Homo sapiens: one gene and its partners. The protein of the gene in region 2 purifies or fractionates together with the protein of the main gene of each other region. This does not show direct contact. Each region holds a gene or a part of one and is shown on either strand. Other genes may lie near its edges.

The links.
Region 1: the proteins of KCNN4 (region 2) and EDEM2 purify together in Homo sapiens (co-immunoprecipitation; one large-scale study listed by IntAct). This does not show direct contact.
Region 3: the proteins of KCNN4 (region 2) and HEATR3 purify together in Homo sapiens (co-immunoprecipitation; one large-scale study listed by IntAct). This does not show direct contact.
Region 4: the proteins of KCNN4 (region 2) and EVA1C purify together in Homo sapiens (co-immunoprecipitation; one large-scale study listed by IntAct). This does not show direct contact.

Annotation. Positions count from the first base shown.
Region 1 is NC_000020.11:35,113,806-35,121,428, reverse strand, and holds the end of EDEM2 (ER degradation-enhancing alpha-mannosidase-like protein 2 isoform 1 precursor), read left to right. Parts: intron 1-2,709; coding exon 2,710-2,831; intron 2,832-4,221; exon of another isoform or gene 4,222-4,293; intron 4,294-5,495; coding exon 5,496-5,996; 3' UTR 5,997-6,065; downstream 6,066-7,623. Other genes in the region: MMP24-AS1-EDEM2 (ER degradation-enhancing alpha-mannosidase-like protein 2), read left to right, coding at 2,710-2,831, 5,496-5,996. UniProt on the Homo sapiens protein: Involved in the endoplasmic reticulum-associated degradation (ERAD) pathway that targets misfolded glycoproteins for degradation in an N-glycan-dependent manner.
Region 2 is NC_000019.10:43,766,669-43,773,261, reverse strand, and holds part of KCNN4 (intermediate conductance calcium-activated potassium channel protein 4), read left to right. Parts: intron 1-1,126; coding exon 1,127-1,262; intron 1,263-3,432; coding exon 3,433-3,543; intron 3,544-3,701; coding exon 3,702-3,820; intron 3,821-4,229; coding exon 4,230-4,299; intron 4,300-5,554; coding exon 5,555-5,719; 3' UTR 5,720-5,722; intron 5,723-6,172; 3' UTR 6,173-6,593. UniProt on the Homo sapiens protein: Intermediate conductance calcium-activated potassium channel that mediates the voltage-independent transmembrane transfer of potassium across the cell membrane through a constitutive interaction with calmodulin which binds the intracellular calcium allowing its opening.
Region 3 is NC_000016.10:50,092,847-50,100,469, forward strand, and holds part of HEATR3 (HEAT repeat-containing protein 3), read left to right. Parts: intron 1-1,858; coding exon 1,859-1,947; intron 1,948-7,383; coding exon 7,384-7,527; intron 7,528-7,623. UniProt on the Homo sapiens protein: Plays a role in ribosome biogenesis and in nuclear import of the 60S ribosomal protein L5/large ribosomal subunit protein uL18 (RPL5). Required for proper erythrocyte maturation.
Region 4 is NC_000021.9:32,417,684-32,425,306, reverse strand, and holds part of EVA1C (protein eva-1 homolog C isoform 1 precursor), read right to left. Parts: intron 5,485-7,623; exon of another isoform or gene 1-5,484. UniProt on the Homo sapiens protein: Binds heparin.

The DNA of each region.
Region 1 (7,623 bases), on a different chromosome or scaffold from region 2:
CGCTCACATTGCTGCCTGAGCTCCGCCTCTTGTCTTATCCGTGGTGGCATTAGACGTTCATAGGAGCACAAACCCTATTGTGAACTGCATATGTGAGGGATCTAGGTTGTGTGCTCCTTAGGAGAAGCTGATGCCTGATGATCTGTCACTGTCATCCATCAACCCCAGATAGGGCTGTCTAGTTGCAGGAAAACAAACTCAGGGCTCCCACTGACTCTACATTATGGTGGATTGTATAATTATTTCATTATATATTACAATGTAATAATAATATAAATAAAGTGCACAATAAATGTAATGCACATGAATTATCCCAAAACCATCTCCTACAAGCCCAGTTCATGGAAAAATTGTCTTCCATGAAACTGGTCCCTGGTGCCAAAACGGTTGGGGACCACTGCTCGACAGAGTTGGTCAGATGCACAGGAAAGTAAAGCAATAACTAACATGCTTAGGAGGCCCACATGTGAGGAGAGAAGCGTGATGGCTGGTCATGAGGGCACTGGCCCACCAGCTGCTAGAAGCAGAAGAGGGCTGGGTGTGGTGGCTCACGCCTGTAATCCCAGCACTTTGGGAGGCCAAGGCGGTGGATCAACTGAGGTCAGGAGTTCGAGACCAGCCTGACCAATATGGCGAAACCCTGTCTCTACTAAAAATACAAAAATTAGCCGGGCACGGTGGCATGTGCCTGTAGTCCCAGCTACTCAGGAGGCTGAGACAGGAGAATTGCTTGAACCTGGGAGGCAGAGGTTGCAGTGAGCCAAGATCATGCCATTGCACTCTAGCCTGGGTAACACAGCAAAACTCCCTCTCAAAAAAAAAAAAAAAAAAAAAAGAAGAAGCCGAAAAAAGAAGCAGAAGAGGAGGCCTCCCATGAGGGCACTGTCTTTTCTGCCTTTGAACACACAGAATGTGTTCATCTAGTAATGAATGTACCCTAGTCTGTGCCTTAGAATATGAGCAATTAGATTAGCAATTGTCTAGAGGCCTGTGAGGAGAGGGGAGGAGGAAGTAAGAGAGAACTGGGGAGATAGGCAGAGACCTTTTCTCTAAAATAAGAACTAGAGGCTGGGTGCAGTGACTCACGCCTGTTATCTCAACACTTCAGGAAGCCAAGACTGGCGGATGACTTGAGGTCAGGAGTTTGAGACCAGCCTGGCCAACATGGCGAAACCCTGTCTCCACTAAAAATACAAAAATTAGTCAGGGCTGGTGGCGCATGCCTGTAATTCCAGCTACTTGGGAGGTTGAGGCATGAGAATCCCTTGAACCCAGGAGGCAGAGTTGCAGTGAGCGGAGATCGCACCATGGCACTCCAGCCTGGGTGACAGAGTGAGACTCTGTCACAAAAAAGTAATTAACGGAATAAAATAAGAACCAGAGTTTGCAGCAATAAGCCAAAAGGGACAGAAGCACTGATCAAGCCCAGGAGGAAACAGGACAGGAGAAGGTCAGGGGGAGATGATGGTATAGAAAGGAGACAGGGGTTCTTCTGTCTCTTAGAAAAGATGGATGAAGTAGAAAAACATACTGAGCTGAGGCCACCCTTGAAGTCAACTCTACAACAGTTCTTCAGGTATTTGAAAGCAATAAACACATTTTTTTTGGATTTCCTTATCTCTAGAATAAATATTCTCATCTGGACCCACTCCTGTTGGCTAATATTCATCTTAAGGTAGAGCTCATGTCTTAACATCAAGTTCCAGTTGTGGCATAGAATTGGGCAAGACAAAACATCACTTTTTCTGGCCACAGTGAACTGATGACTACGTCTTTGTTAGATTGACGGTTTGGTGGTTTATTTTATTTTATTTTTTTAATTTTTATTTTTTGAGATAAGGTCTCACTCTTGTCATCCAGGCTGGAGTGCCGCAGTGGCTTAATCATGGCTCACTGCAGCCTCAAACTCCTGGGCTCAAGTGATCCTCCTACCTCAGCCTCCTGAGTAGCTAGGACTACAGGTGCATGCCACACCCAGCTAATCATTTTTAATTTTTGTAGAGACAAGATCTCGCCATGTTGCCCAGGCTGGTCTCAAACTCCTGGGTTCAAACGATCCTCTCACCTTGGCCTCCCAAAGTGCTGGGATTACAGGCATGAGCCACCCACCATGCCTGGCCTGCTCTTGGATATCTCAGCCTTTTCTTTTGGTCCATCCTATCTTAGAACGAGCCTTATGATGCCAAGCTCTTACTCTTCTTTTGAGTTTTAGAATTAGGTTAGACTCTGAGTGACAGGAAAAAAAATAGTAGCTTAATTAGGATAGAAATGTATTTCTCTCTCATGTTCTGGGCTTATATGGCTCGCCATGGTGTCCTTAATCCCACCTAGCTGTTAGAATAGTTAGTGTTGGCAGCCAGGCAGCCTGTGCTTAGCTAAAGTTAGGAATCCTGCTACTAAGGAGGAAGCGGGGAACAGATATTGGGAATTAGGCAACAACCTCCGCCACCTTCTCTATGCCAGAACCTGGCCACCTTTCTCTCCCTTGTGGTGGAAGTCACTGGTCAGCCTTAATGCTGGTCTCCACTGAGCTTCAAGCTTTGGGTATACTGGCTCTGAAACTCAGCACTGGGTGAGGTATCCTGTGTTCCTGCTAGTTGGGGCCTTATGGACAAGATATGGAGGGGAGTAGTCCCTCACGGCCCTAAGAGGCCCCAGGCCATCTCTGTGCAGCCACTGAGTGAGGAGGGTCTGCTTTGGACTTTGCAGAACTTATTGAAAGCGCAATGTACCTCTACCGTGCCACGGGGGATCCCACCCTCCTAGAACTCGGAAGAGATGCTGTGGAATCCATTGAAAAAATCAGCAAGGTGGAGTGCGGATTTGCAACAGTAAGTGTTTGCATGGCCCCAAGAACTGGGAAGAGTCTCCCCTTGCTGCTAAAAAGCCTCTTTAAGGGTAGAGCTTTGGGAGTTCTGACATATCAGCACTAGAAGGGACCTTGGAGATATACATAATGCTCATATTTTACAGATGGGGAGACCAAAGAACAGAGAAGCTAAGTGCCTTGCTAAAGATCTCACAGCTAGTAGAGGTAGAGCTAGAATTAGTTCCTTGGGATCTTGACCCCGGCCCTTGGCATTCCTCCCACAGTGGAGATCTTTGATCTGTTTGAATAGGTGACTTTGAAAAGGTGAGTTTAGCGAAAAGTTTTGTGAGACACTAAAATAGATTTTAAGGGGAATCCAGAGTCCCATAGCCCTATATTCAAACCTGGGACTCCTTAACAAAGCAGTCCTGCTTAGTCTCACAGATATTTCTTGAATGTCTTTCACATGCCAGGCACTCTGCTAGGCCCAAGGGTTACAGCAGTGGCCTTGCTCTCATGGAGCTTACATTTTAATGAGAAAAAAACCATGAATGTGTATCTGGTAGACAGAAGGCCAGTGTGGCTGGAGCGGAGCAAGCAAGGAGAAAAGTGGGAAGAGATAAGGTCCCAGAGGTAGGCAGGGGCTAGATCATGTAGGGTTTTGTGTAAGCCACAGGAAAGAGTTTGGGTTTTTTTTTCTACTTGGAATGTGAACCCTTGGTAGGATTTACAGCAGAGCAGTGACATGATCTGATTTGTATTTTAGAAAGATCGCTTTGGCTGCTTTGTGAAGAATAGATTGAAAGGGTCAAAGGTGAGAGCCATCTCACATCCATGCAGGAACCAAGCAGGCAAGATATAAATATGAAAGTAGAAGAAAATAGTCTGGAAGAAAATCCCCTGAAAAGCCTACAGTGTTGGGGTATGGAATTCAAAACAACAACAAAACACTTATTTTGCAAAAGTTTGTAATGTGATTATATTCTATAAGTAAAATATAGATATGTGTAGGGGAAGAGAGAAGACCTACATGTGGAAGGGAAAAAATAAACCCCTGATATGATTTGGTTTCTAATATGCTGTATTGTGTGAAAAACCAAAATGATAAGCCCACTGGGGCCTTCCTAGGAATGCTGGGCTCATTTCCATGAACATGAAGCCCTTTGGAGGTCTTCCATGGTGAATGATGGGAACAGGGGTCTGACCTTTCTCAAACAGGGCAAGGAAATAATCATCTTGATACATCAAGACCATATTTGAGTCATATTTTTAAATGTAAGATAGAGTCCACTGAGAATGTTTTGTTTAGAAGTATTACTAATTCTGAGAAGCTAAAATAAATGTTTGTAGCAAGTAATCTTAGTCATCCATGCCTGAAAACTCAGTTGAAATTCTCTAAATAAGACTCCTTACTAAAACAATGTCAATAGTTTTCATCAACAGCAGTTGAACCTAGTAAGTGTCGATACTTTGGGTCTGAGTGGAGAAAAAAAGACCCCTTATTAGTTGCTTACAAAAACTTGGTAATTGGCCAAGCGCAGTGGCTCAGGCTTGTAATCCCGGCACTTTGGGAGGCCAAGGCAGGCGGATCACGAGGTCAGGAGTTCAAGACCAGCCTGACCAACATGGTGAAACCCTGTCTCTACTAAAAATACAAAAAAAATTACCTGGGTGTGGTGGCATGTGCCTGTAGTCCCAGCTACTCTGGAGGCTGAGGCAGGAGAATTGCTTGAACCCGGGAGGCAGAGGTTGCAGTGAGCCGAGACCATGCCATTGCACTCCAGCCTGGGCAACAGAGTGAAACTCCATCTCTAAAAAAAAAAAAACTTGGTAATCATCTGAATGCCCTTCCAAGGAGGATTAGCCAAGTAAATGGTGATCCATTTTCACGATGGAATACTCTGCCATCATTAAAAGGGACGATTAGCTCTATGTTTATAGTCACAAAAAGTTGGGATAAAGGGGATAGGAGATTGTCATGTCATAGAGCAAGGTTAGCGGAGACCTTTCTGGTGAGGAAGCATTTGAGCAGAGACCTGAAGGAAGGGAGGGAACAAGCTATGAGAAAAACTGGAGGCGGAGTGCTCCAGGCTGAAAGAACCACAGATGCAAAGAGCCCGAAGCAGGAGGGTGCTGTGCTAGCTCAGGACAGAAAGGCAGCAGCTGGAGCTCTTAGAGTGGTAAGAGGTGAGGGCAGGAAGGGAGCAGGGGCCAGGTCATGACTTGCATTTTTATCCTGCATGAAATGGAGGGCTCACAGAAAGTTGTGAGTAGAGAATTGACAGGAAGACTTATGTTATACAGATACTGTAGGAGCTTGGTGTGTGTCTCACGCCTGTTATCCTGGCACTTTGGGAGGCCAAGGTAGGAGGAATTGCTTGAGCCCAGGGATTTGAGACCAGCCTGGGCAACATGGTGTGAGACCCTGTCCCTATTTTTTAAAATAGTGTGTGTATATAAACTGCAGGGCTAAGATTGGAAGCTGGGAGCCCATTTGGAAGCTTATGTGATAATCCAGGTGAGAGATGATGGTGGCTTGGGAAAGAGTGAAGTTCTGAAAAGTTCAGTGATTTGCTCACAGGCCCTCAGCTGCTTTGTGGCAGAACAGGCCTTCTTAAGGGATTGCCTGACCCTTACTACTAAATTGTGATGGTGTTCCAGCTTGCTTCCTTCTCCCACATGTCAGATCAAAGATCTGCGAGACCACAAGCTGGACAACCGCATGGAGTCGTTCTTCCTGGCCGAGACTGTGAAATACCTCTACCTCCTGTTTGACCCAACCAACTTCATCCACAACAATGGGTCCACCTTCGACGCGGTGATCACCCCCTATGGGGAGTGCATCCTGGGGGCTGGGGGGTACATCTTCAACACAGAAGCTCACCCCATCGACCCTGCCGCCCTGCACTGCTGCCAGAGGCTGAAGGAAGAGCAGTGGGAGGTGGAGGACTTGATGAGGGAATTCTACTCTCTCAAACGGAGCAGGTCGAAATTTCAGAAAAACACTGTTAGTTCGGGGCCATGGGAACCTCCAGCAAGGCCAGGAACACTCTTCTCACCAGAAAACCATGACCAGGCAAGGGAGAGGAAGCCTGCCAAACAGAAGGTCCCACTTCTCAGCTGCCCCAGTCAGCCCTTCACCTCCAAGTTGGCATTACTGGGACAGGTTTTCCTAGACTCCTCATAACCACTGGATAATTTTTTTATTTTTATTTTTTTGAGGCTAAACTATAATAAATTGCTTTTGGCTATCATATTTTGGTTATCATGTTTTACATATTGGGCTGTCTCATGAGATTTCATTCAAAGAAAGGATTGGTGGCTACGGGCAATTGTGACTCTAGTTAATTTTCTCATGCAGCTGGAGAGACGGCTAAATGCGGTTAGCTGGCTCCAAAGATCCTAGGGGTCGATAGTTGAATCTCCCTTCCTTTTCTGGTGTCTTTGTGGAAAGTGTTGTCATAAATGTATTTCTTTGTTAGTTCTTGCTCCAACATGTGCTTCTTACTTTTTTTTTTTTTTTTTTTTTTTTGAGACAGAGTCTCACTCAGTCACCCAGGCTGGAGTGCAGTGGTGTGATCTCGGCTCACTACAACCTCTGCCTCCCAGGTTCAAGCAATTCTCCAGCTTCAGCCTCCTGAGTAACTGGGACTATAGGCGTGCATCTGGCTACACCGCATCTGGCTAATTTTTTTATTTTTATTTTTATTTTTTGTATTTTTAGTAGAGATGAGGTTTCACCATGTTGCCTAGGCTGGTCTCGAACTCCTGACGTCAGGTGATCCACCCGCCTCGGCCTCCCAAAGTGCTGGGATTATGGGCGTGAGCCACCATGCCCCGGCTGCTTCTTACTCTTTAGTTGACCTATCTATCCACCTGTCCTTCCAAGCAACGAAGATTTATTAAGCACCTTTTTTCTTTTGAGACAGGGTCTCCCTCTGTCACCCAGGTTGGAATGTAGTGGCATGATCACGACTCACTGCAGCCTCGACCTCCCAGGCTCAAGTGATCCTCCCATCTCAGCCTCTGGAGTAGCTGGGACCACAGGCACACACCACTATAATTTGCCTGATTTTTAAAAATTTTTTTGCAGAGACGGTGTCTCCCTATGTTGCCCAGGCTGATCTCAAACTCCTGGGCTCAAACAATCCCCTGCCTCAGCCTCCTGATTAACTGGGATTTCAGGCGTGAGCCATGGGGCTGGGCAGGCACCTTTGTGTGCCAGCCGCAGCCCCAGAGGTTCAGCAGCAAACAAGGCAAACAGTTTTTATTCTTGTGAAACTAAATTTCTAGCAGAAAGAAATAACCTAGTAAATAGATAAAGTAACATTGTGATCAGTTCCATGAAGAAAACACGGGGCTGTGCTAGAAAATAATGGGGAAAGATAAGCTGCTTTAGATAGGGTGGGTGGAAAAAGCCTCCCTGAGGACGTGAGCTTTTAATTATGTAAAATTTTATTGCTTTTTAAAATTTTATTTTCTTGTAACTTTAATTTTTTCTTTTTACATTTTTATAAACATTAGAGATGGGATCTTGCTTTGTTGCCCAGGGTGGTCTCGAATTCCTGGGCTCAAGCAATCCTCCCATCTCAGCCTCCCAAAGTACTGGAATTACAGGCATGAGCCACTGTCCCTGGCCACAAAGTTGTTTTTTTTTTTTTTGAGACAGGGTCTCACCCTGTTGCCCAGCCTGGAGTGCAGTGGCGCAATCACGGCTCACTGCAAGCCCTGCAAGCCTTGCAATCCCTGACCTTCTGGGCTCAAGCAATCTTCCCACCTTAGCCTCCCGAGTAGCTGGGACAACTGGAGCATGC
Region 2 (6,593 bases):
GCAGTGGCACAATCTCTGCTCCCTGCAACCTCTGCCTCCCGGCTTCAAGCAATTCTCATGCCTCAGCCTCCCTAGTGGCTGGGATTACGGATGTGCACCACCATGCCTGACTAGTTTTTGTATTTTTAGTAGAGACCACGTTACCGTGTTGCCCAGGCTGGTTTTGAACTCTTGATTTCAAGTGATCCTCCTGCCTAAGCCTCCCAAAGTGCTGGGATTACCATGCCCGCCCTCTGTCATGAGTTTAAACTCCTTCACCTTCCAGGATCTTAGTTTTCACAATTGGGAAATTGGTCAGAATCAGGATTAATGAATGATCCCCCCACCATGTTTCTCAATTGAATGATGGGAGAATGGGGAGGAAGTCAAAGTTCCACATTCCAAGGCAGAAGTCCTGAAACTAGAATGTACTTCGGAATGAGGGGGTGGGGTTTGTGAACAGTACAGATTCCATCTTCGCTCCTAGAAACTCCAACCCGGTGGGTCTGGGGTGTCAGGGGCCCTCATGAATGAAGCTTTCCCTGCTGGTCTTGCGGCAAGGGGCCTGTGGACAAAGTTAGACAAATCTCAATGTTTCAACCCCTTCCATGGCTGGACTTAAATGTCTCCTCTGTGAAGTGAGAGGAAAGGAAGGCCGAGTCCCACCAAGCCTTTTTAGAGTCCTTTTTGGTCCTGATAGGGCCACTTCTGGACCACACAGCATCTTTGTGGAAATTAGAAAAATATACCCCTTCCTCTGGGTGGATGTAGCCACCAGTCAGGGTCTGACTGGGTTTTGGCCCCCTATCGACTCTCCACCCTCAACCACACGCTCTGAATGCTACAGCAGCCCGGGTAGCCTAGCTGAGACCATACCGGCATTGGGATTGGCCAGACCCAGTCTCAAATCCCAGAGTGGCTAAGCAACTTGCCCAGGTCACACAGCAGAGAGGAGGCCATGCAGGCTTTCCAAAGCTCAGAACTTAATGGCTTTTTGTCCAGGTGATTCTTAGGACTATGGGTGTATACTGGGAGGGGAAGGGAGGGAACCAGAGGGAAGGGGATGGGAGGGTATAGAGGGAAGGGGAGTGAATATCATGGAAACCTCTATGGTGGGGTTTTAGAACTAACCTACCCTTCCCCATAGGCAGGCTGTTAATGCCACTGGGCACCTTTCAGACACACTTTGGCTGATCCCCATCACATTCCTGACCATCGGCTATGGTGACGTGGTGCCGGGCACCATGTGGGGCAAGATCGTCTGCCTGTGCACTGGAGTCATGGTGAGTACAGCTGCCTTGGGGACATGATCCCTATCCCAAACTGGTCATCCTCTGGCCCCAGGAAGCCATGATTAAATGGGTTCAACACAGGCTCTCAGGGACAGCTCCTGAGAAACTTGAGTGTCTGGGGCCCCCAGAGCCCCATTCTCTCTTCAAGAACAAGATACTCACCTGTAATCCCAATATTTTGGGAGGCCAAGGTGGGAGGATCACTTGAGCCCAAGAGTTTGAGGGTACAGTGAGCTATGATCATACTGCTGCACTCCAGCCTGGGTGGCAGAGTGAGACCCTGTCTCTTAAAAAATAAAATAAAAAATCAGACCTAGGAATCCAGCCCCTAAGTCCTTGCTCTCTCTAGAACCTAGGGCCCCAGCCCTTATCCTCCTCAGGGACCCAGGCTCCTGACTTCGCAGCCCCATTTTCTTCCAGAACTGGGAAATCGTCTCCCAGCCTCCATCAAGGGTGTAGAGTCCAGTTATCAAGTGCATACCTGTGGGGCCAGGCTACCTGGGTCCGAATCCTGCGGCTGCCACTTCCTGGCTGGGGAGCTCAGGCGAGCCACGTGATCTCTCGGGGCCTCACTTTCCTCATCTATAAAATGGGGATGCTGATGCTCCTCATGGGCTTGCTGAGATGATTAAATGGGTCCAACTACGTAAAGTGCTTCCAACAGTGCCCAGCCCACAGGAGGTGCTCAGTAAACAGGTCTAGGGGTGGCCAGGCATCCAGCCACCCCACACCAGCTCCTGTTGCCCTCAAGGATGAGGCAGAGGCTCTGCAGCCTGAGTCAGCCTCTTCCTGAACCCTGACATCCACCTCCTTCCCTCCATAGACCCAGTCACTCAGGTCCTCCCACCCAGCCCTGGCCCCCTCTAGAGACTAGCACCTAATGCCTTGGCCTTCACCTCCCTACAAGATCGGGTTCCCCTCACCCTCGGGGACCTAAGCCACCAGCACCTAGCCCAGATGTGGGCCTAGGAAGGACATATTCATCCCCCAATCCCTAGGTGCACAGGTGAAGGATGTGGTGACCTCCACTCCCCCAGTGGTGAGTCTTTGGAGCAAGGGAAGAGGGGCAGAGACTCAGTTAGGGACCTGCAGCACCGCTCAGGACCTCCTCCCTCATTTGACAAAAGGAGAAACAGAAACCTAGAGAGATAGGGTGATGTGCACTTGAGCTCACAGCCTGCTCCTGGAAGAAAGGCTCCATGGCATGGTTGGGCCATAAAAGCTTACTTTTCCGGAGCACATACTCTGTGCCAGTCTCTGCCCTACACACTTGCCAGGGGTAATTCATGAAATCCACCTAGTAACCCTGTGAGGCCATTTCACAGATGAGACACTGAAATACTGAGAGATTAAATAACTTGCTCAGAGCTGGGCTTGGAACCCAGGCAGTCCCCTGGAGCCAGCGTTTGTGACTGGAAGTTGTTCTGAGTGATCAAGAGCTGAAACTATAGGGTTGGGGATGCTTCCTAGGAAGATTCCTTCTAACTTGGGGACAGGTGAGCAGATGCCACAAGCAGCTAGGAATTGCCAAGGCCTTGAAGGGCCAGGAGCATTGGGAGAAGGAAGGGAGGAGAATGAGTGTTCGGAGGAAGGTGCTCAGGGAGGGCAGGCAGCATGGAGCCAGGGCTGAGTTGTCCAGGTGGGAGGCATAGACCTTGGAAGGCCTTGGGAGCCAGGCTGAGACGTTCAGGCCAGTGGAAGCCTGGGAGATTAGAGGGGACCAAGGGGGTTAGGGGAGGATGAGTGGGAGGCTGGAGACGGTCCAGGAGAGAGAAGACAGGGCTGGAGCTAGGAAGAAGTTGTGGGAGTGGGAGAAGGATGGTCGCCCTCCACAGTGCAATGGCTGACCACATGAGCACTGAGGACCCAGAGGCCTGCCCCTGGCTCAGAACCCAGCCTTCCTCTCACTCCTCCAATCCTATCCTTCATTCAAGAGGCCACCCTGAGGGTGTGAATGCTATGCATCAAATTTGGGCTCGGACGTATGCGATTTATGATTCTAGCTCCACCGCTCTGAGCTGGGACCTTGGCTCTCCTCTCTGAGCCTCTTTGCTTGTCTGCTAACTGGGGATGGTCGTGCCTACCGTCTGTGGCTGTTGGGCGGGTTCAAGGAGGGAGTCGGTGGCACAGCCTCATGCCACGGTGCCTGCTGTGCCCACAGGGTGTCTGCTGCACAGCCCTGCTGGTGGCCGTGGTGGCCCGGAAGCTGGAGTTTAACAAGGCAGAGAAGCACGTGCACAACTTCATGATGGATATCCAGTATACCAAAGAGGTGAGATGGGCATATGGCACCCATGGGACACCCCTCTTCCAAGAAGCAGGAGTCCAGGCGCCCCTGCTTCCCCTAGGACCCAAGAGTCCCAGCCCTAGCCCTGCCTTCCCAGAACCGTAAGGGTCTATCTCCACGGACACTGTGCCACCCACCCCCAGATGAAGGAGTCCGCTGCCCGAGTGCTACAAGAAGCCTGGATGTTCTACAAACATACTCGCAGGAAGGAGTCTCATGCTGCCCGCAGGCATCAGCGCAAGCTGCTGGCCGCCATCAACGCGTGAGGGCCGCTTTGTATGCACACGTGTCCATGTGCACCCATGTCCAAGTCACCTCTCTGCACGGCTGTGTGTGTGCATGTCCATGCCTGTCCAGGTCAGGACACCCAGGTGTGGTCTCACTCAACATCCAGGTCTCACCTGGATCTGACCGTGCATGACTCTATGTGTCTGTGCTGGTTTGTCTCCGCATATCTCGGTGTGTCTGCGGACCTGGGTACCTGGGTTTCTACTGGGGATGGGGGCTCGTGGGGAGGCAGGGTGCATCCCCTCCCACTCTTTCAGCTCTTCGACAACTTTGTTTCTTTGTTTTGTTTCTTCATGTGCCTCTCCTCCCTTCATTCCTCCCCTGAGCTACAGCTACATTCAGGGACCAGGCTTGTAAAACTGACTCCCCACTTCTTCCCACAGGTTCCGCCAGGTGCGGCTGAAACACCGGAAGCTCCGGGAACAAGTGAACTCCATGGTGGACATCTCCAAGGTACTAGGATCCCGTGGGAGGAGGTCTTGAAGAAGGGGGAGGTTGGGGCCACAGGGAGGGAAATCTGGCCCTAGAACAGGGAACCTTGGCAGGGGCCTGGCACACACAGCCTGTCAGTAAAGGTCTGTGGTTGAATGAAGGAAGGAAGGAATGAATGATGCAACACAGAGCTTCTTACATTCATGAAAGGCACAGATCCCTTACAAACTGAAAAAAAAAAAATTGCACAAAGAACCCCAGTGTTTGGTTTCAAATTATCTTTATTGTTAAGTTACTTACATGTGGACGGATATAAAATTCCTTCCAACTACAGCTCATACAATAAAACCAAAGCAAATTTACAAACCAAGCCCATAGACGGCAAAACCAATACAATTAAAATGAACAACACTGACAAGGACACAGGTGACATTGTTTCCGTAAAACTCAATCTCTGCTGCTCTTGTGGAGGGGTACTCAGGGCAACAGGGACGTCCATGCAAGTTTGCCTGGCCAAGGCGTGACTCAGCTACCCGCCCCCTTCTTCTGCTGAGACCATTTGATTTCGCCAGTGCTTAGGGACAATGATGTCACAACACCCCCTTGGCCTGGCTCACAGCATCTTCTGCTTATCTGGTGGCCTTTGCTTTTTCTCGTTAGCCCACGACAGTTCAAACAGTGGCCCCTGGCAGCAATGCCATGGTAAGCACGGTCACAGATGCAGGCCCCAAAACCGCATGGCAGGTCTCAGTGACGAGGCAGTGGCCCAGATCTGCAGGAATTGGCAGGTGGTAATTTCTGAAGGTTATCAAGCCAAAAACACAGAATTCAAGAATTTCCATAGAAAATCCACAAACCCTCAGGGATCAACTAGTGAATCCTAGCCAGAGAATGCAGTAAAAGACTATGTGGATTTGGAAGTCAGGCATCATCCATGCTAGAAATATCTAATGAGCACCTGCTATGTTCTAGGTCTTATTTCAGGAGCTGCTTTGGGCATGTCATTTAACTGTTCCATGCCTGTTTCCTCAGCTGTAAGACAGGAACAGGATTCCCACTCCCTGTGGCTTTTGGGAGGATTTTAAACCATATAGGGAAACACCTGGGCAGGTAGCTGGGAAGTGGTAGGTGGTCAATACATGGTAACAGTTATTGTCGAGGGTAATCCTCAGAGGACCATAAGGATGTGGTCAATATTGGTTCCATTGCCTTACGCTATGGAGTAGGTGGGGGTCGACCCCAGCCCCGACACCTCTGATCCTCTCCTCCCACCCAGATGCACATGATCCTGTATGACCTGCAGCAGAATCTGAGCAGCTCACACCGGGCCCTGGAGAAACAGATTGACACGCTGGCGGGGAAGCTGGATGCCCTGACTGAGCTGCTTAGCACTGCCCTGGGGCCGAGGCAGCTTCCAGAACCCAGCCAGCAGTCCAAGTAGCTGGTGAGGGGGCTGGGACTTGGGCAGGAAGGCATCCTGGAGGAAGGGTTCCTGTGGCCAGCACCCTATGTGGCTAAGGGGGCGGGGGATGGCTGGGAGACAAGGCCGCCTTTTCTCATCAGCTCTGGCACTGTCTGGAGGAAAGGACTCAGTTCGGGGCTGGACTGGCAGTGAAGGAAGATGGTGTACCCTCTCCCCTTCACTGACCCTTGATGGCCTTCTCCCTCTTTGCTTGGTCTCTCTCTCTCTCTCTGCCTGTCCTGGGCACATTGTCTGGCTGTCCATCCAATGTCTCTGTCTAAATGCCCTCCTGCCCCCTGGCCTCGGGGCCCGGAAACACCTGCCCCCTGTCTCCCACTTCTGCCCACCGGTTTCTGTCTGCACCTCGGTGTGTCCCACTCTCACTCTCCCTCTTCCTGGCCTGCCTCTCCATCAGTCTCTCTGTCTCTCCAGGACCCACGAGGAGGAACCAGGCTACTTTCCCCAGTACTGAGGTGGTGGACATCGTCTCTGCCACTCCTGACCCAGCCCTGAACAAAGCACCTCAAGTGCAAGGACCAAAGGGGGCCCTGGCTTGGAGTGGGTTGGCTTGCTGATGGCTGCTGGAGGGGACGCTGGCTAAAGTGGGTAGGCCTTGGCCCACCTGAGGCCCCAGGTGGGAACATGGTCACCCCCACTCTGCATACCCTCATCAAAAACACTCTCACTATGCTGCTATGGACGACCTCCAGCTCTCAGTTACAAGTGCAGGCGACTGGAGGCAGGACTCCTGGGTCCCTGGGAAAGAGGGTACTAGGGGCCCGGATCCAGGATTCTGGGAGGCTTCAGTTACCGCTGGCCGAGCTGAAGAACTGGGTATGAGGCTGGGGCGGGG
Region 3 (7,623 bases), on a different chromosome or scaffold from region 2:
TGGAGTTTGCATTCTAGTATAAATAAATGTTTTATGTGATATTAGCTATGAAGAAAAAAGTAAAAGCAGAATGATATGAGGCGTTACACTAGGCCAGTTAGTGTGGAAAGGCCTCTGTGAGGAGGTAACATTTGAGCCAAGACTAAAATGAAGGCAGGAGGAGTCACATAATTATGTCAAAGGCAGCTCTCTATCCTAGGGCTGAGTGTGTAAAGCTCTCCTATTATTCTGTGATCATTACGGGAAATCCCCTATTTTGGTACATAATACATATCTGAAAATGAAAGAGCCAAAAAATACAATCAGCCGGGATTAGAATTTGAACAGAAGCTGCCTCTCTTCTACCCGGGTAACCTAAAAGTGGGGGATCGGAATGGTATAAGTCCCAGGAACTGTGGGGCAGGAAGTGAGTGTATCTATTGCTACGTAACAAGTTATTCCAAAACTCTGTGACTTAACAACAACAACAATCATTTATTATTTCTCGAAGTTTCCTTTGGTCAAGAATTTAGACAGGGCACAGTGGAGATGGCTTTTTCCTATTCCACAATGTCTAGGCCAGTGGTTCTCAACCATGGCCACTTATCCCCTCCCACCTCCCACCTGGGGACATTTGGCAACGTCTGGAGGTATTTTTGGTTTTACAACTTGGAAATTGCAACTGGTGTCTAGAGGGTTGAGGCCAGGAATGTTCCTTCACATCCTACGGTGCCCAGGAGACCCCTGCGCACACATAAAATGAAGAATTATCTGGTCCAAAATGTCAGTAGTGCAGAGGCTGAGAAATACTAGTCTAGGGCCTCTGCTGGAAGACTCGCAGAGTATGGGCTGGAATCATCCGAAGTCTTGTTCACTCACGTGTCTGGCAGTTGGTGCAGGGGTTGTCAGGAAGAACACCCACAGTGACCTCTTCATGTGACGCAGGCTTCCTCATAACAGGATGGCTGGGTTCCCAGGGCGGAAGTCGAGAGAAAAAAGAGCATGCACACATGCGTCAGGGCTGGAAGTCATACTGCCTTTTGTGACCTAGCCCGTCACTTTGTATTCTGTTGGTTGAAGAAGTCACAAAGTCCCACCCTGATTTAAGGAAAGGAGAAGTAGATTTCACATCTTTATGGGAAGTGGCAAGGTTCTTGAAGATCACACAGGACTTGAAATATTGCCATGGCCATTTTTAGAAAATACAGTCTACCACACCAAGCAAATCTCTTCCCATCAAAGAGGTTAAGGAGCCAACTCCCCTGGGTGACCCTCACTGTCCCTTGCACGTGCCTGTGCCAGCATAATGGCTTACTGCTGGTGTTCTGTTTGTCCCGTGTGGGAAGAAGGGACAATAAGAAAAGTGTGCGAATAAGGAGTAGGAGTGGGAAGGGGATGCTGGGTCAGTTAAAGTGATGGTGCCATCATGTCCTGGCTCTGCACAAGCAACAGTGTGTGGCTAAGCAGTGGGCTTGGGTTGGCAAGGAAGCATTCTGACTCCACCAAAGGTAGTTCTACCCAGCACCCTGATGGAGATCTATGAATGACAGAATTCAGTCTGCAAAAGCTAGCTTAGGTTTATTATGTGCTGAAGTGTGAGTCAAATGAAAACCCAGTGTCTGGAAGTCAAGGACTGTCTGTAGAACACCTCCTTGCTGTGATTATTTTAACCACGATCATCTTTCAGACTTAGGTATAGAGTGTACAGGGGGCTGTTAACTAAATATTTTGGCTTAAATATCGAGGGTTTTTTTTTGTTTGTTTGTTTTATTAAGAATAGCATTTATTAACATTTAGCATGCTTTGTTTTGTTTGTTGCTTCTACAAAATAGCCTATCTTGGAGAAATGCAAATTTTATATTTCATTTTTGTGTTTTAGATTTTGCTAAACATGTTGACTTTCTAGAAGCCATAAGTAGTGCTTTGAGGGCCCTTTTGCAAACAATGGCCTCCAAGAACATTTCCCAGGTAAGAGTTTTAAAATTTTTTGTATGAAACTTGTAAAGATTGTGTATTATGGAGGCAAAATTCATTACTTCACTATTTTAAAAAATACATATTTCTGTTACAAGAATAATATGTGATCTTTGTAAAAAATAAAACAAAAGTGATTAAAATAAAAAGTAATATCTTTCTGCTCCCTACCATCAGCAACACACAGGTGCTTTTAATTTAATTTTTTAAATTTTTTAATATATAGGCTTACTAGCAAAACAAGTGCTTTTTAATCAATACAACTTAATTGATAGATATGTTGTAAATAATTTCTCTATCATTGGTCTTTTTTTTAAATCTTTTTTTTTTTTGAGACAGAGTCTTCCTCTGTCGCCCAGGCTGGAGTGCAGTGGCATGATCTCAGCTCACTGCAACCTCTGCCTCCTGGGTTCAAGTGATTCTCGTGCCTCAGCCACCCAAGTAAATGGGATTACAGGCATGCGTCACCACAAAATTTTTGTATTTTTAGTAGAGACGGGGTTTTGCCGTGTGGCCAGGCTGGTCTTAAATGCCTGACCTCAAGTGATCCACCCACCTTGGCCTCCTAAAGTGCTGGGATGACAGGCGTGAACCACCGTACCCAGCTTTTTTTTTTTTTTTTTTTTTAACATTTCATTACAGACTTTGCAAGCATGCCCTCCTGACCCTTCACAGCAATCCATGTGCACTTCATCTCCCATAGGTGCCTTACCACTTTTGCTACTTTTTACTAAGGAGACTTTTAAACATTCCTAAAAGCAGAGATAATAATGTTGCTTTGTTTTTTGAGACGGGGTCTTACTGTGTTGCCCAGGCTAGTCTCCTGGATTCAATCCTCCCACCTCAGCCTCCCAAGTAGCTGGGATTACAGGTGTGCGCTACCATGTCCAAAGCAGAGATAACCCTATGAGCCTGCATGCACCGTCGCCAAGCCTCAGCAGGTTATTAGCGTCCTGTCATTCTTGTGACATGGTTTCATTCATCTCACTGGGTCCTTATTTTTGTTTCCTGGAGTATTTTAAAGCAAATCATATTAGACCCATCAATATTTTATTATGTAGTTCAGTATGCATGTCTGACAGAAAAATAAATTTTTAAAAATCTTAACCCCAGTACCATTACCCCAAGGCTCCAAATTAACGGATATTTCTTATTATCCTTTGGTTTGCACTCTGAGTTCAGTTTTCCCAGCTGCAGTCTAAGTTCAGTTTTCCCAGATTGCCTTAAAAATGTATTTTAACATGGCCAGGCACGGTGGCTCACACCTGTAATCCCAGCACTTTGGGAGGCTGAGGCGGGCAGATCACCTGAGGTCAGGAAGTCAAGACCAGCCTGGCCAACATGGTGAAACCCCGTCTCTACTAAAAATACAAAAGTTAGCTGGGCATGGTGGCGCACTCCTATAATCCCAGCTACTTGGGAGGCTGTGGCAGGAGAATCACTTGAACCTGGGAGGCGGAAGTTGCAGTGAGCCAAGATCATGCCACTGCACTCCAGCCTAGGCGATAGAGCAAGACTCCGTCTCAAAAAAAAAAAAAAAAAAAAACAGAAAAAGAAAAAAACGTCTTTTAACAGTTGGCTTGTTCAAATCAGGATCTAAGCAAGGTTCATGTGTTGCTTTTGGTTGATATTTTGGTCTCTTATTATCTCTAAAAAAAATTTTACTGAGATTTGATTCACATACCATGCAGTTTATCCATTTAAAGTATACAGTTCAGGCCAGCTGCAGTGGCTCACGCCTGTAATCCCAGCACTTTGGGAGGCCAAGGCCAGTGGACCACGTAAGGTCTGGAGTTCAAGATCAGCCTGGCCAACGTGGCGAAACCCTATCTCTACAAAAAATACAAAAATCAGCCGGGCATGGTGGCAGGCACCTGTAATCCCAGCTACTTGGAAGGCTGAGGCAGGGAGAATTGCTTGAACTGGGAGGTGGAGGTTGCAGTGAGCTGAGATTGCACCACTGCACTCCAGCCTGGGCGACAGAGGGAGACTCTGTCTCAAAAATAAGTAACTAAAGTGTACAATTCAGTGGTTTTAGTATATTCTCATATTCTTAAATCTCTTAGTCTATAGCATTTCCCTCACTCCCCTCCTTTCCCCATACACTTACCCATTGAAGAAACTCTCATTTTGTTCCGTAGCATTTTCTGCACTGGCAGATTTGGCCAACTCATCATGATGGCATCGTTCAGCATTCCTCTGTCCCCCATGTTTCCTGTGAGCCGGGAGCTAGGTCTAGAGCCTTAATTAGATCCAGGTCCAGATTATTTATTTATTTATTTTTTGTATTTATAATAAATAATCTAGACAGGTCCAGATTTTTTGGCAAGAATAATTTATAGTGCTTTATATATTTCCTATATTTATATCACAAATCATATGATATTATAAAATAGTGATGCTGAGATTAATTAGTGGGTTCACATAATGGTTTTATAACCAGTGATTGTGGTTGCCTGGCTCCATTATGTCATTAGTGGGTTGCAGAATAGAGATACCCTAATTTTGTCTTTTCTTTTTTTTTTTTTTACATTTATTAGCTATGATTTTTTTTTTTTTCAGAATAGCTATCCTAGCAATCTCTATAAGTGACCAGTGATTTTTTTTTTTTTAGTATCATTTTGAACTCAGGGTTTTTTATATATTTGTATTTCATTCCATTATAGTCATGCTTTTTGCTGCCAAATTCATCCCATCTTTGGATAGTAGGAGTCCCTTCAAATTGGCTCCTGTGCCTCTTTTACAAGAATTTTAGGTTTTTGATCACTTTTGCTTCCAGGCATAGGATGTCCCAGGTTCAATTTGTAATTTTCTTGCTTAAAACCTGGAATCTGGCCAGGCACAGTGGCTCATGCCTGTAATCCCAACACTTTAGGAGGCTGAGGTGGGCGGATCACTTGAGGTCAGGAGTTTGAGACCAGCCTGACCCACATGGCGAAACTCCGTCTCTACTGAAAATTCAAAAATTAGCTGGGTGTGGTGGCACGCGCCTGTAATCCCAGCTACTTGGGAGGCTGAGGCAGGAGAATCGCTTGAAGCCAGGAGGTGGAGGTTGCAGTGAGCCAAGATTGCACTGCACTCCAGCCTGGGTGACAAGAGTGTGACAAGAGTGAAACTCCGTCTCAAAAAAAAAAAAAAAAAACCCTGGAATTAGTTACTTCTCCAAGAAGCTCTGATTTCTTTAGTGGGGAAAGTGAATTGTGGAGTGCTTATTGCTATCATGTTGCCATTGTTTCTAGGTCTTTTTAGTGGAAATAGCTAGGAAATAGGCATTTTTTTAGGAGACAAAAATAGTAAGTTTATCCTGATAATTTCCAGTTTAAATAAAAAATGGTACAATATTTTTACTTAATTTTCGATTTTGTATTTCTATCTTTTTGTATCCCCCAAAAAGATACATTTGTACCCAAAAAGGTACATTGTACCCAAAAAGATACATTAGTGACATTAAAATTCTTATTTGCAGCTGGTCTGATGGTAGTGGGTTATCAGGACTTATTAACATTAGTGTCACTGAAGTTGGTATACAACCCCCCACGCTAAGTTTGACTGGCTTTAAAAATAATAATAAATAGGTCGGGCACGGTGGCTCACGCCTGTAATCCCAGCAGTTTTGGAGGCCGAGGTGGGCGGATCACAAGGTCAGGAGATCAAGACCATCCTGGCTAACACAGTGAAACCCCGTCTCTATTAAAAAATACAAAAAATTAGCCGGGTGTGGTGGCGGGTGCCTGTAGTTCTGGCTACTCAGGAGACTGAGGCAGAAGAATGGTGTGAACCCAGGAGGCGGAGCTTGCAGTGAGCCAAGATCGGGCCACTGTAATCCAGCCTGGGCGACAGAGCGATACTCCGTTTCAAAAATAATAATAATAATAAATAATTTAAAAATTAAAATTAGAGAAAAGAAAGAAAAATATTTTTCAAAAATTTTATTATTTGCTTTCTCCTACAGAATGTACTTTGTAGTAGTGACATTAAAAGACATTAAAATTATTTGCTATACAGTGATATTAAAATTGTTTGCTGTAGTAACATTAAAATTGTAGTGACATTAAAACTATTATTTGCTTTATCCTACGGAATGTACTTAATAGTATCAAAATAACAATGCTCTTGTTATTGCCAATAACACTATTTCTTTTTGCTTCTTTATATAATTTTTTTCTTAATGCTTTTAAAATTTTTTTATACTTTATTTTTATTTTTTAGTTTTTTAATAGAGATGAGGTCTTGCTATGTTGCCCAGCCTGGTCTTAAACTCCTGCTCTCGAGTGATCCTCTTGCCTCAGCTTTCCAAAGCTAAGAATTTTTTTGAAGAGCATAATTTGACCCTCAGTTTCTAAGAAGTAGGAATGGTAATGGGATGCATAGCCTGCCATGTGGCTGTTGGATGGACCAGAAAACCTTATACTCTAGGGCCTATAGGAATATCAAGTATTTTTATTGATTTCCCCTGGTATGTAAGCAGCAGCTTATGGGATCAGTGTGATGGTTAAGGAAAATTACTCAAAGCCCATGTTCAGGGCCAGGTGCAGTGGCTCATACTAATAATCCTAACACTTTGGGAGCCTGAGGCGGGAGGATTGCTTGAGCCCAAGAGTTCAAGAACAGCCTGGGCAACTTTGTGAGACTTCATGTCTACAAAAAATAAAAATACATTAGTCTAGTGTAGGGGCTCACACGAGTGATAAGTAGTGAAGCTAGGATTTGAACCCAGGGTTCAATCTCCAGATTCCAAGCCTTTGTGTCTGGCTCCAGATTCCAAGCCTTTCATCACTACACTGTGCTGCTGCTTATAGGAGATAGTCTCACTCTGTTGCCCAGGCTAGAGTTCAGTGGCACAATCTCAGCTCACTGCAACCTCTGTCTCCCAGGTTCAAGCGTTTCTTGTGCCTCAGCCTCCTGAGTAGCTGAGATTGCAGGCGTGAGCCACCGCGCCCAGCCTTAAACTGAAAATTATCCACTACATGGTAGAAGCACCATATAATGTAATGGTTTCTACAGTCTTTAATTATGATAATACAGATATCTCAAAGTAAGTTCTTACCTTGTATAGACTCAGCCAATTTTTTTAAAACCACACAATCCTATTTATACTTTCAAAGCCTTTTTCTTACCATTAATATTAAAAAGGAATTGGACTCTCTTTAGTGTGTGTACATCTGGAATGAAAGTCTTCATCAAATTAAATGGAGCCCCTTTGATATTAGATAACAGTGCCGACATGAGCAGGGTTCACCTTAGTTCAGAATTACCAGCTCTGTCTGGGAGAACTGGAATACATATTAATAGTAACTTACCTGCCAGGAGTTTATGTCACTCTTAAAATCCTGTAGCCTATAGAGGAGATTCCTGTCAGTCCGGTTTTCACATGCTGATAGAATTAATTGAGTTTAACATTATAAATACTGTCCTCTTCTCTTTTAACAGTGCATGACTCCTGATCAGCTGATGACATTATGCAAAGCAGGCATTCATAGTAGTAATGTCGGGGTTAGAGTGAATGTCGTTAGCATTTTAGGAATCACTGGCAGCGTCCTTGCCAAAGAAGATGGTACACTTGAAACTCTTAAGGTAAAACAATTTGCTTCTGACCTAACATGTTAAATAATTAGAAATGGGAGAAGAACTGTTGGTGTAGGATTTCTTAAAACTTGTGTGGACTTGAAG
Region 4 (7,623 bases), on a different chromosome or scaffold from region 2:
CTGCGGTGCAGTGGCGTGATCTCGGCTCACTATAACCTCCGCCTCCTGGGTTCAAGCGATTCTCCTACCTCAGCCTCCTGAGTAGCTGGGATTTACAGGGGCATGCCACCACACCCAACTAATTTTTGTTGTTGTTGTTTGTTTGTTTGTTTGTTTTTAGTAGAGATGGGATTTCACCATGTTTGCCAGGCTGATCTCAAACTCCTGACCTCAGGTGATCTGCCCACCTCAGCCTCCCACAGTGCTGGGATTACAGGTGTGAGCCACTGCACCCACCCTACAAAATACTTTTAAAAATTAGCGGGGTGTGTAGTCCCAGCTACCTGGGAGGCTGAGGCAGGAGGAGCTGTTGAGCCCAGGAGGTTGAGGCTGCAGTGAGTCACAATCATGCCAGTGCACTCCAGCCTGGGTAACAGAATGAGACTCTATGAGAAATCATCATCAATCATCATCATCATCACGTCATCATCATCATCTTGGGACATTCTAACTTAAAATAAAAAAAATACGGAAATCAGATGAGAGGGACCTTTGCACTTGAAAGTGGAACAAGCAAGACCACAAGATCTGCTCTGTGTGGTTCTCCACAGCCTGCCGTGACCAGTTCCACAGAGCGGGACCACAGCACTGGGGTTCTCAAGACCTCTTTTCATTCTGAGTCTTTGTGTCCAGGGTGGCCTGTCCACAAAACATTTTGCATCATTAGCTTTGGAAGGAGCGTTCTGGCATTCAGGTTTCAGATAATAGAATGAAGTGTTTAAAATGACAATCCCTTAATTTTACAAGGAAATTGACAAAGGGAGGCATGTAAGCCTGAACTTGGGTTCAGTGTACATTTTTTTTAATGAAAAAGAGACTGTAAAATTATGTGAATTTCTTCAAGTATATCCCTCCAAAGCTGTACAAATTGGACTTCTAGATAAGATCATACATTCCCATTTCCACCTGTCATCTCCTGTTGAGCAGGCAGGGAGGGAAAAGGAGCTGGTGACCTGGGTTTCTCTTGTTCCTCAGTACAGTACGATGATTTATGATTTCTAAGCCTGAGAATTTCGGAAGCCACTGAACATGAAAAGAGTGAAAAATCTTCTAAGTCAAGAGAAAGAAAGGAGATAACTTGGTAGGACAGTGTGCTCTTCTCTCAGACTCTGAAACACTACTCTGAAAGCTGTCACGAGTACGCATCGCATGGGCCTTTGCAGACAAAAAGGATTATTTTATCCAGATTATTCCCCCACATTGCAGGGGAAAAGGGACTCATTTGTAATCATCAAAGGAATGCTGACAGACTTGAAATGGGATTACACTCTATTATACTCATCCGAATTAAAGATTTGTTTTGGAGATCATTCTTAGGTTTCTTCCTCTCTGCTCCTCCAGCCCCAGATGAGGTGATTTGTATTCACAGGGCATCAGAGGCAGACATGAAATCAGACTGTTCACAAACATACATTTCAGACTCCGTGGCCTGAGTTTTGAATTTTAATGTTGCCTGGTTTTCTGCGTGTGGAAAACTTGGCTCTCAGATTGAAACGAACCCTAAGCATCACTTCATCCAAGCATCATTTCATTCTCTAACTTGTTAGTGCAGGAGAAATTCATTTCCAGAGGCTTGAGTGAGCAAATGATACAGGTGTCGGAGAGAACATAAGGATGAGAAATTCATGTAAGGAAATGTAAAATCTATGCATAGCCAGAGTCATCTAGTAGGTCTGTGAACATACTTCCAAACACTCAGTTCCAAGCTCTGTGGTTTGCTTACTAGTTTTTGGAGAATGTGACCTGCCAAATCGATTGCTCATCCCTCAAACTCCTCTGTAATGTGTGTGTCCATGAACCCACTAAGAAGCAAGCTTCCCCAGGGAAGGAATGATTTTTTGGAGTAGGTTGTACCATATCTAGCACAGCATCTGGTACCTGAGAGGCTTTAGACTGTTTCCCATTCTTCCCTACAGAATTTCTAGTGTGTGGTCACCATGAAACTGAGGCTCACCTGTGGAGGAGCCTTGAGTATCTCAGGGTGGAAGTTATAGTCCTTGGAAGAGCTCAAGTGGGTCAAGAAAGTGTCTCATGACTTTTGCTATCAAAAGAGTGAAATATATTACAGAACATCCCTCTCAATACAAAAAGATTATACTCCCTCAGCAGGAAGACAGAGCAAGGAATGTGGATAAAGTGCATTCAAAGTTGTACCATTTCTTTGTCCACCATTTTTTTTTTTTTTTTTTTTTTTTTTGAGACAGAGTCTCACTCTGCTGCCCAGGCTGGAGTGCAGTGGCATGATCTTGGCTCACTGCAACTTCCACCTCCCATGTTCAAGCGATTCTCCTGCCTCAGCCTCGTGAGTAGCTGGGATTACAGATGTGCACCACCATGCCCAGCTAATTTTTGTATTTTTAGTACAGACATGGTTTCACCAAGTTGGCCAGGCTGGTCCCGAACTCCTGACCTCAAGTGATCTGCCTCGGCCTTCCAAAGTGCTGGGATTACAGATGTGAGCCACTGCACCTGACCCCTTTAATAGTTCTTTTAGTAAAGATTCATTAGCGGTAAATTTGTCTTTCCTTCACACACTCTTGAAAAGCAGTTAAGCTGGGTATATAATTCAGGACTGATGGTTGTTTTTTGTTTGTTTGTTTCTCAGAACCTGGAAAATATTATTTCGCTGTCTATGGCTCCCACTGTTTTTGTAGCAAAGACTTTATAGATAACATTTCCTTTACTATCTGATTGCTTTTAAGACTGTCACTTTGTCTTTAGTATTTTACAGTTTCAGTATGACACATTCAGGTATAAATTTATTTTATTTATCTTCCTTGGAATGCTTAACTCTGAATCTTTCATCAATCCTTAAAAATTAATCCTAGGACACCATCACTTTGAGTGTTGCCTCTCTCTCCTTTTCCCTACTTTCTTTTTCTGGAATACTGATCAGATGTATATTCAACCATCATTCCATCCTCCATGTCTTATGACTTTTCTTCCATGTTTTCCATATGTTTACCTGTTTTGCTTCATTCCGGATAATTTCTCCAGCTTTTTTTTCCACCTCACTGTTTCTCTCTTCAGCTATACCTAATCTGCTCTTCAACCTACCCATCAGGCTTTTCATGTCAATGAATATATTTTTCATGTTAGTAGATATCTTTGATTCTTTTACAAATACACCTGTTTTTTCTCGATAGCCTTTTGTTCCTTTCTCATGTTTTAGATTCCTTCTTAAATTTCTTTTTAGATTCCCTCTTTTTTTTTTTTTTTTTTTGAGACAGGGTCTTGCTCTGTTGCCCAGGCTGGAGTGCAGTGGCACAGTCTCAGCTCACTGCAACCTCCACCTCCCAGGTTCCAGTGATTCTCATGTCGCAGCCTTCCAACTAGCTGGGATTACAGGCACCCGCCACCACACCCAGCTAATTTTTGTATTTTTTAGTAGAGACAGGGCTTCGCCATGTTGGCCAGGCTGGTCTTGAACTCCTGACCTCAGGTGATCCACCCACGTCGGCCTCCCAAAGTGCTGGGATTACAGGCATGAGCCACCATGCCCAGACCTAGATTCTCTCTTTTATTACTTAAGAACCGTGTCATTGCTGCTGACTACTGCTCATATAATGTAATTTTGAATTGTGTGATCATAATCAGCAGCATTTTAGCTATAGGAATCTATAGATGGGCCTATATTGATGATATTCCCATGAAGGCAGTATCTGTGTGTTTGTTTTTGCCAGGTATCATGGGACAACTTTATTAGTTTCTCAACTTGGGTTTCCCAGTAAAGGTAATATGAATTCAAAACCCAGACTCTCCAAAAGGCAGAATTTTGATTACACCATCTCAAGAGACATTATTTTTTTCTCCAATCCTGAACCTAGGCTATGACAAGTTTCCTTGTCATCTTTCTTTACAAGAAGGCTGATTTGTTTTACATCCACCTTTTAATGAAGGCTTAGGTTTTCAAAGTCCTGGCTTTATATAGAGGTCTTTATTCTAATTCCTCACTATACAGTGGTCTCACTCCTTATCGCCTGCGCTCAGGCACCTGTTAAATCTTCGTTGTCAAGACCATCAAGCAACTCCAACGTAGCCATAGGGTTAGCACCAGCTATCATCCCTAGTTCTCTATTCTCTCTTCATTTTTGTTTCCTCACCACTCATTTATACATTAAAAGATTTTTCTTATATTTTATTCAGCATTTCTAGGTGTTTTGTTGGGGAAATAGTTTCAGAACACCAATTTCCAGAAACAAATTACAGACCCAATTCTATAATCAGTTCTTTGAGGCTAGATGGTACTATCTTTAAACAGGACAAGGAATGGACATTACTTATGTAAGTCCTGGGAAAGATTTGGCTCTAGGAAATGAAGAGATAAACATGACAGAAGTGCCACTGCTTTAAACTGCATGTAATTTATTTTGTTTTATTCCCTTGGTATTAGAAAGGCTACCTGGATTCAAATCCCCAAAAGTTACTAAATTGCTCTTTGCCTCAGTTTCTTGAACTTTTTATACTAGCATCTCCTTTATAGCTACAACTGGGAGGATTAAATGAGTTAACATGAAGTTCTTTGAACAGTGTCTGGCATAGAGTGCTTTATGTGCTTAATAAATTATTTTTAGGGCCAGGCACAGTGGCTCACTCCTGTAATCCCAGCACTTTGGGAGGCCAGGGCGGGTGGCTCTCTTGAGTCCAGGAGTTTGAGACCAGCCTGGGCAACATAGTGAGACCCTGTCTCTACAAAAAAAAAATGCCAAAAAAAATTAGCTAGGCCTGCTGGCATGTGACTATAGTCCCAACTACTAGGGAGTGCTGAGGTGGGAGGATGGCTTGAGCCCCAGAGGTTGAGGCTGCAGTGAGCCGTGATTGCACCACTGTATTCCAGCCTGGGTGACAGAGCAAGACCCTATCTCAAAAGTAAAAGATAATTTTTTTTCTTTTTTCTTGAGACAGGGTCTCGCTCTATTGCCCAGGCTGGAGTGTGGTGGCATGATCTTGGCTCACTGCAACCTCCGCTTCCCAGGCTCAAGCAATTCTCCTGCCTCAGCCTCCCGAGTGGCTGGGATTACAGGCGCCCACCACCATGCCTGGCTAATTTTTGTATTTTAAGTAGAGACAGGTTTCACCCTATGGGCCAGGCTGTAAAAATTTTTTAAAACCCTAAAAGTATTTTTAACTCACCAACTTTTTTACTCATACTGAGGGAAACCAAGTAAAGAAGTTACTGCCTCTGCTGAGCCGGTGGTGCACACATGGGAGCCAACTAAAGGGGTGGCAGAACGAGATACCCCAAGGGGCAAGGGGAAACTCAGAAGACACCAGAATCACTTGGTCAGCTGCCTTTCCAACCCAAGATTCTTTTTCCAGTACTAAAATCTTCATGACTGTAGGATTTAGGATTTATGTTATTATGAGAAACCATTTCCTTACAGAAGGATACAAATATACCAGCCTCATTAAAATAGTGACAAAGTATCATAAAACTTCAGACCTCCCCCCAGCCCCCACCCCCGCTCCCACCTTCTTGGTCCATTGCTCAGCTTCAGTGACAGTATGTTTTTTTGTTTGTTTGTTTGTTTTTGTTTTTTGTTTGTTTTTGTTTTTACAGGAACTCGCTCTGTCACCCAGGCTGAAGTGCAGAAGCACGATTTCGGCTCACTGCAACCTTCACCTCCTGGGTTCAAGTGATTCTCCTGCCTCAGTCTCCCGAGTAGCTGGGATTACAGGAGCATGCCACTATGCCCAGCTAATTTTTGTATTTTTAGTACAGATGGGGTTTCACCATTTTGGCCAGGCTGGTCTCAAACTCCTGACCTCAAATGATTCACCTGCCTCGGCCTCCCAAAGTGTTGGGATTACAGGCGTGAGCCACAGTGCCCGGCCATCAGTATGGATATTTAAAACCCAATAGGTACTGGGTTCAAATCCTGCTTCTAAATTTTATTAGCAGCTGTGGAGCTGGGGAGAGCAGTACGCAAGTCAGGCAATAGGGGTGGGTAACGAGGGAGCAATTGTTCTCTCATAGTACATTACCCTCAAAGTGGTGCCTCACTAAGAATTTTAAAGATATTAAGCCAACAGGATGGCTGTGAAGATCAGTGACCTCCAAATTTTTTTAACTCATGAACTCATCTACGCAACAAACCTTCCCATGCACCCCCAAACCTAAAATAAAAGTTTTAAAAAATAATTATTATTACTGGCAGAAACAATTATAAAAAACATTATGAACAGAAACATTTTGAGAACACATCTCCAATATATGCACACTTATTTATAAATTACATGTTGTTCTGTCAATTTATATGTTAATTATAAGCAAAACTTAACTCCTTTTTTTATTAAGATGGAAAACCAATAGGCAAGAACAGAAGTTCTGACATGTTTTTCCTACCCCACTGGACCACTTTGTGAGTGCACCCACTTTGGAAGGACTGTGATGAAATGATGCTGATGGGAGGGTAGGAAAAGGTCAGTCTATTCAGAAGGTAACCAAAATGGCAGCAATGACCCCATGAACTTTCAAGAAAGGTTAGGCAAATTGTGGTACTTTTTTTTTCTGGCCTTGCTCCTCCCTACCCCCAACACCCTTGCAGGCGAAGTCCCCAGCCTGGCCCCATCCCTGTACTCTGGCCAGCCCTGGTGCTGGAGCCTGCCTCAGCTCTGCTCCCTAGCTGGGTGGTCTTGGGCAACTTTGTTACCCTCTCTGAGGCTGAGTTCTCATCTGCAAATGAGACTGGTCCTGATCTCACAGAGTTGCTACGAGGATGAAATCAGATAAAACTGAGTTCAATTAACTTTTACCCTCTTCCTTTCTGTTTCTTCCCTGAAACTGCTGCTAGGCTCCCCTTTCCAATAAAGCACCTGGGAGACCAAAGCCATCAATAACAGGGACCACTTGTGGGCCGAGACTCTTCTCTGCCATAAAAAGAGCCGGCAGAAAACTTTTCAGATGTAGTCACTTTCCATGGAAACAGATGAGCAGATTCAGACACTGGCTATTCATCTCTCTTCTTCTGTGGCCTCTAGACAACTCCTTCGGACATTTGGTTTGTTTTTCTTTAGTTACGAGCTGGCTTTTCACTCCATAAATTTTTTTAAAGTAAAGATAAATCTTGAATAAAAAGGATGATGTGACTGAGGCATCATGAAATGCAGAGGGAAGGGTGTGTGCATGCGTGTGTTTGCATGGCTGTGCATGCACAGGTGTCTGTGTTGCGAGGTGCTGATATGCTGGGGAAATACAGTCCTGGTCTCCCTGGTGATGAGCCCTAGGGTAGGGGGTGAAGGGGACACCCAGCCACACTCTGTGCCCTTGGATGACCTGATGCATGGGCAGAAGGTCACCCTCCCCTCTGAACTCCAGAGGTGTCCTCAACTCTAGCTGCATATTAGAATTGCCTGGGGAGCTTTCAAAAAGAGATCAGTGACTGGCTCTCCCAGGGCCAATTACATCAGAAGTCTTGGGGTGCAGCCTGAATGTCCATAGATATTTTTTTAGTCTCCCCAGGAGATTTTATTGTGCTGCCAGGACTGAGACCCAATGCTTATCTGAAAGCAAATAACAGGGTTCAACCTCTCCAAAATGAACAACTGTGTCCATCAATACTGAGTTCCCACCTCAAGGCCCCC